Linked DNA regions of Homo sapiens. The protein of the gene in region 2 purifies or fractionates together with the protein of the main gene of each other region. This does not show direct contact. Each region holds a gene or a part of one and is shown on either strand. Other genes may lie near its edges. The genes, in order: ZMPSTE24 and ADCK5.

Region 1 (3,041 bases), on a different chromosome or scaffold from region 2:
TCTCCCCCAAGCAAACAGGCCAGAAACACATATAAAAGTTAAACATCCCTAACCAAAAACTTGAAATCTGAAATGTTCCAAAATCTGAAACTTTTGAGTGCTGACATGAGACTCAAAAGTCATGCTCAGGCCGGGTGTGGTGCCTCACACCTGTAATCCCAGCACTTTTGGGAAGCTGAGGCAGGTGGATCACCTGAGGTCAGGAGTTCGAGACCAACCTGGCCAACATGGTGAAACCCTGTCTCTAGTAAAAATACAAAAATTAGCTGGGCGTGGTGATGGGTGCCTGTAGTCCCAGCTATTCAGGAGGCTGAGGCAGGAGAATTGCTTGAACCCGGGAGGCGGAGGTTGCAGTGAGCCAAGATGACACCCCTGCACTCCAGCCTGGGAGACAGAGCGAGACTCCATCTTAAAAAAAAAAAAAAAAAAAGAGTTTTAAGATAATACATCTCAGTTCTCTGCCAAATTTATTTTTGTTTATGTGGACAATGCTATATGAATATGATCTATGCCCCTCCATTTTTCTTTCCTGGTGTCCCCACCATACATAATAGAAAAATATAATTCATTTAGCTCATCTTAACTCTACAATCTATCCCAAGAAAGAATTCTTCTGAATGGAGATACCTCAAGATCTTCAATATTATTTCTTAGCTTAATTTGGAAGCCTTACCAAACATCATGAAATGATGCCATTGTCAGGTTTGTTATATAGTCTCACATTAACCTATGTATTATCACTCACACGGAATACCCCTAATGAGCTAACACAGAGCAATGTTCTTAAGTTTCATTTACCACAAAATACCCGATTTTGATTTTGTGGGTTTGGGTGGATCCCTCAGGCTATATGGAGGCAGGTGGTCATGGAGCAGAGGAACAGTCACTAAGCCTCCCTTACTGAGCTGTACCAATTAGTGTTTGCTTTGTCCCCTCATACACATAAGATTTTTACCCAAGCACTGGTGAATATGTGGCCTAGGACACAACATTCCAATAGTTAATCTCCATCTACCGAGTCCTTTTAGGTGTTCACCACTGAAGTCTAGTTTTCTACTTATACTTTCCTAAGAGTATGCAAACGTTTATTTATTTGGGCTTGAATTTTTCTGCTACTTTGTCATACTGACCAGTGAATCAGGGGACTAAAAGACTTTGTTTCATCTATTTGTTAAAACTGTACTGTTCTATTTCCTTTTTCACTATCCTGAAAGCTCTAGATTTGAAGCAGGCAAGAGCATATGTGTGATAATTTTAAAGATCATACATTACCTCATTGTAAGGTGAAAAAATAAACTGGAAGATGATCAATAGTCCAATAAGAGTGGGTTGGCTATCATAAAAACCAAATGCAGCAAAAAGCTCCTTTCGACCAATTAATACAGCAAATAAAAAAAAACACAGGAAAGAATTCATCTAGAAAGAAGGACATGAAATTTCTAAGTTATTACCAAGCTGATTTCACTATGGGATCAGTAGCATCCATAAAGTATAAGAAATCACAGTGTGGCCGGGCGCGGTGGCTCACGCCTGTAATCCCAGCACTTTGGGAGGCCAAGGCGGGTGGATCACGAGGTCAGGAGATTGAGACCATCCTGGCTAACATGGTGAAACCCCGTCTCTACTAAAAATGCAGAAAAAATTAGCCGGACGTGGTGGCGGATGCCTGTAGTCCCAGCTACTCGGGAGGCTGAGGCAGGAGAATGGCGTGAACCCGGGAGGCGGAGCTTGCAGTGAGCTGAAATGGCGCCACTGCACTCCAGCCTGGGCAACAGAGTGAGACTCCATCTCAAAAAAAAAAAAAAAAAAAAAAAAAAAATTCATAGTGTGATTTTAAGAAAGGTATTAGTGTGATCACAGAACAAATTATTTAAGTAGCTTTTTTTGAGACAGATCTCACTCTGTCGCCCAGGGTGGAGCTCAGTGGCACGATCTCGGCTCACTGCAAGCTCCGCCTCCCATGTTCACGCCATTCCCCTGCCTCAGCCTCCCGAGTAGCTGGGACTACAGGCGCCCCCCACCATGCCCGGCTAATTTTTTGTATTTTTAGAAGAGACGGGGTTTCACTGTGTTAGCCAGGATGGTCTCAATCTCCTGACCTCAGATGATCCACCCACCTGGGCCTCCCAAAGTGCTGGGATTACAGGCATGAACCATACTGCCCCGCCAGTAGTTTTTAGTTTCACTTTTATTTCAAAAGTAAAATAAAATGTTCCCAAATGTATAAACTGTATCATTTTCTATAAGGGCAAGCTTAAGTTGAGGCTCCTATCATTGAGGGTTTGAAGTGGTCAATAGCAATGGGATATTTTCTCTCTGTAAAAGGGTGAAGGGCTAGAATGGATTCTGGCCTTGTTTTATAACACTGTAATCAGATACAACGCCTCCCACCTGACTTTGAAGCGGAGGCTCCAAAGAAACAGGCTTCCCTTGAATCCTCTCTAGGCCCACTGGAGCTGTACCAGATAGTTAGAAAGGTCAGGGGGAAAAGTAGATCCATCTTGATCAATAAATGAGAGGAGAAAAAAATAAAAAATCTATACCAAAATACAACCTCTTGGAGTAAGGTTGGAGAACACACAACATTCTTTTTCTGTGCAAATTAGGATCTTGGAGGCCACATGTACCTTATTTAAGTGTGTTGCTTCAAACCATTTGACCCAAACGAGATGACCCAAGAAGCTGTCAGCTTAGAATGGGGCTTAGAGCATAAGAAGGCTCACCAGCTGCCCCAGGACAAGCAGCTTCGACACTCATCCTTATAACTCAGTGGATCCAATATGACAAGCTCCAACAGAAAACTCAGTGAAGTCTCCTACACTTATAATCTATGCATCCACTTTTGTCAAGTAACCATTGTCCTTTTGAAAAATAACTTTTGGTTTGCTACTGGGCCCTACTACAGACTGAATTCCTGGCCATGGGATACTGTGATCCTGCAAACTGAACTATCCCTTCTGAACTGGGTGCTATGTTAATCTGTTAATCTGCCTAGCCAGGAAACTGCTATGCGCAGAAGCACTTCATCATCAAGGACAAGT
Region 2 (3,819 bases):
ACCTGCACTGGGCGAGGGTGTGGTGAGAACTTGGGGCCCCACTGTGCCCCGCCCCAGCCCACTGCTGAACAAGGCAGCCCCCATATACCTTCACAGCCACGCTGGTGCCATCGTGCAGCTTGGCTCTGTGCACCTGTGCCAGGCTGGCGGCAGCAATTGGCTGGTAGTCAAACTCCTGGAAGAGCTCGTGGGGGAGGGCCTGGAAGTCCTCAAGGAACAACTCATCCACCTGGAAGGACAGGTGCTCAGAGCAGCCTGGGGCCACTGCTGGAGGCCCCACCTCCCTCGGCCTGAGCGCACACTCACCTCCTGGAAGCCCCGCTTGAGGGCCCTGTCCTCTAGCACGCGCAGGGTCCGGGTATACTCGGGGGGAAGCAGGTGGTTGAAGGAGCACAGCCCCTGGCCCAGCTTCACGTAGAGGCCCCCGTTGCTGATGGCCCCTGCCACCAGGGCATCAGCCGCCCGCTGGTGACACGCAGACATCACCTCCAAGTAGCCTGGGCTGTTCTGACCACAGGCATGGGGAGAACACATGGGGACAGGTGGCTGCCTCCTCAGTCCCACCCAGCCCACCACCTCATGCCCACCACTGTGTGCCCAGGGCACCAGGACAAACCTCTTCCACCCCTCGAAGGACAACATTGGTGCACCACCAGTAGTCCAGGGAGATCTGCAGGCCGACCTTCAGAGACCTGCGGGCAGAGGTGGCCTCAGTCTCCAGCGGGGCAGGCTCGGGGCCCCGGTGCTTGGTCCTCTTGTCAGAGCCCTCATGGTCTAGCCTCACCCCGGCCAGCCCTTCATGTCCCAAGGGTGAGGCCAAGCCAGGGTCCAGCCTACAGCCGCGTAGGCCTGTGTGAGCACAAGGGGTGCTGCTGAGCTCGTGGGGTGTCCTGTGGCCCTGCAGGTCAGTCTCAGCTCAAGATCAGTAGAACGGGGCCAGGTGTGGTGGCTCATGTCAATTATCCCATCACATTGGGAGGCTGTGCTGGGAGGATCACTTGAGCTCAGGAGTTCGAGACTGGCCTGGGCAACATGTTGAAACCCTGTCTCTACCAAAAATGCAAAAAAATTAGGCAGGCACGGTGGTGCACACCTGTGGTCCCAGCTCCTCAGGAAGCTGAGGCAGGAGGATCGTTTGAGCCTAGGAGGTGGAGACTGCAGTAAGCTGAGATTGCACCACTGCACCCCAGCCTGGGCAACAGAGCGAGACTCCGTCCAAAAAAGATCTGCAGAGCTGGGCACAGTGGCTCACGCCTGTAATCCCAGCACTTTGGGAGGCCGAGGTGAGTGGATCACCAGAGGTCAGGAGTTCAAGACCAGCCTGGCCAACATGGTGAAACCCCATTTCTACTTAAAATACAAAAAAATTAGCCGGGTGTGGTGGTGCACACCTGTAATCCCAGCTACTCGGGAGACTGAGGCAGGAGAATTGCTTGAACCCGAGAGGCAGAGGTTGCAGTGAGCCAAGATCGCGCCATTGCACTCCAGCCTGGGCAACAAGAGCGAAACTCGGTTTCAAAAAAAAAAAAAAGAGGCTGGGCTTGGTAGCTCACACCTATGATCCCAGCACTTTGGGAGGCCGAGGCGGGCAGATCACAAAGTCAAGAGATTGAGGCCATCCTGACCAACATGGTGAAACCTAGTCTCTACTAAAAATACAAAAATTAGCTGGGCATGGTGGTGCGTGCCTGTAGTGCCAGCTACTCAGGAGGCTGAGGCAGGAGAATCACTTGAAGTCAGGAGGCGGGTTTCGGTGAGCTAAAATTGCGCCACTGCACTCCAGCCTGGCGACAGAGCGAGACTCCGTCTCAAAAAACAAAAAAAGATCTGCAGAATGGGCAGCCTGTGTCCATGCCACCCTCACTCCCTGCCACCCTCAAGGGTGCCCAGGTGAGATGGGGTAGGGGACAGTATGGACGGTGGCATCCTCTGGAGAGATGGGGTTCCAAGGCTGTCTGTGAAGGTAAAGGATGGCAGCAAGGGGGCAGGGCTGAGGCAGCAGAGGTCACAGGAGGGTCAAGGTCACCTGCAGCCTGAGGTCCACTAGGAAGAGAGGAGGACACCAGGAGGGTGGGTCTCCAAGGCCTGGGGAGGCAAGGTCTGCAGGGAAGAGAGCCCAGTTAAGGCAGGAAGTGGGGGACATCCTGGGTATCTGTTGAGCAGGTACTGGGCTCCTGGGGGAGATTTAGGCAAGAGGATGGGGTAGAGGGGTGTCCCCAGGCCTGGCCCCAGTTAGGAGGATATCAGGGTGGGAGCCCTGGGAGAACTCTGGGGACCAGCTGGGCAGCCCTGGAATGAGGCGCCAGGCAGCGGGCAGACCACACACAGGTGCACAGGGAGGGGCTGAGGTCAGAGTGGCTTCTCCAAGGCTGGCCATGGCCAGAGGCCTGTCCCTGCGTTCTGTGAAGCTCACGTACCTGCCTGGGGACAGGGCCCACAGTCATTCCTGAAGCGCAGCTCTGGCGCTCAGGTGGACTCTGTGTCCCCCATCAACCCAGGGCGACCCCCCGGCCATTCAGGCCCCACTCTGGCCCCCGTAGAGCATCTGGAGTGCGTGCTTGGGTTAGGCCAGGGTTTCGGTTTCTTTTTTTTTTTTTTTGGAGACGGAGTCTCGCTCTGTCGCCCAGGCTGGAGTGTGGTGGCGATCTTGGCTCACTGCAGGCTCCGCCTCCCAGGTTCACGCCGTTCTCCTGCCTCAGCCTCCAGAGTAGCTGGGACTACAGGCGCCCAACACCACGCCCGGCTAATTTTTTTGTATTTTTAGTAGAGATGGGGTTTCACCGTGTTGGCCAGGATGGTCTCGATCTCCCGACCTCGTGATCCGCCCACCTTGGCCTCCCAAAGTGCTGGGATTACAGGCGTGAGCCACCGTGCCCGGCTCTAACTTTTCTACTATTAAAATTTGTTATAGTAAACACAACACTTTTGTAACAAAACTTAAAGATGTGAAAAAGTCCCACAGACTTGTGCTTGGGGGAGAAGGAATTTAATTTTTTTTTTTTTTTTGAGATGGAATCTCGCTCTGTCGCCCAGACTGGAGTGCAGTGGCACAGTCTAGGCTCACTGCAACCTCCGCCTCCCAGGTTCAAGCAATTCTCCCGCCTCAGCCTCCCGAGGAGCTGGGACTACAGGTGCCCACCACATGCCCAGCTAATTTTTCTATCTTTAGTAGAGATGGGGTTTCTCCACGTTGGTCAGGCTGGTCTCGAACTCCTGACCTCGTGATCCGCCCTCCTCGGCCTCCCAAAGCATTTTCACATTGCATTTCACATTGCCTCACAGAGCATTTTCAACATTGCTGTATGTTTGAAGTTTTTCACAAAATGTTGGAGGCCGGGTGTGGTGGCTCACACCTATAATCCCAGCACTTTGGGAGGCCAAGGCGGGCGGATCCCCTGAGGTCAGGAGTTCAAGACCAGTCTGACCAACACAGAGAAACCCGCCTCTACTAAAAAATACAAAATTAGCTGGGTGTGGTGGCGTGTGCCTGTAATCCCCAGCTACTAAGGAGGCTGAGGCAGGAGAATCGCTTGAATCCAGGAGGTGGAGGTTGCAGTGAGCGGAGATCCCACCATTGCACTCCAGCCTGGGCAACAAGAGTGAAACTCTGTCTCAAAAAAAAAAAAAAGTATCAATGAGTGCTAAACTGCTGGGTGGAGGCCAGGCGCAGTGGCTCATGCCTATAATCCCAGCACTTTGGGAGGCTGAGACAGATGGATCACTTAAGGTCAGGAATTCAAGACCAGCTTGGCCAACATGGAGAAACCCCATCTCTACTAAAAATTAAAAAAAAATTAGCTGGGTGTGGTGGCAGGTGTC

Evidence for each region.
Region 1: the proteins of ADCK5 (region 2) and ZMPSTE24 purify together in Homo sapiens (affinity purification with mass spectrometry; one large-scale study listed by BioGRID and IntAct). This does not show direct contact.

The regions. Positions count from the first base shown.
Region 1 is NC_000001.11:40,289,229-40,292,269, reverse strand, and holds part of ZMPSTE24 (CAAX prenyl protease 1 homolog), read right to left. Parts: intron 1,417-3,041; coding exon 1,273-1,416; intron 1-1,272. UniProt on the Homo sapiens protein: Transmembrane metalloprotease whose catalytic activity is critical for processing lamin A/LMNA on the inner nuclear membrane and clearing clogged translocons on the endoplasmic reticulum.
Region 2 is NC_000008.11:144,387,544-144,391,362, reverse strand, and holds part of ADCK5 (uncharacterized aarF domain-containing protein kinase 5), read right to left. Parts: intron 2,101-3,819; exon of another isoform or gene 2,027-2,100; intron 693-2,026; coding exon 617-692; intron 508-616; coding exon 307-507; intron 230-306; coding exon 89-229; intron 3-88; coding exon 1-2. UniProt on the Homo sapiens protein: The function of this protein is not yet clear. It is not known if it has protein kinase activity and what type of substrate it would phosphorylate (Ser, Thr or Tyr).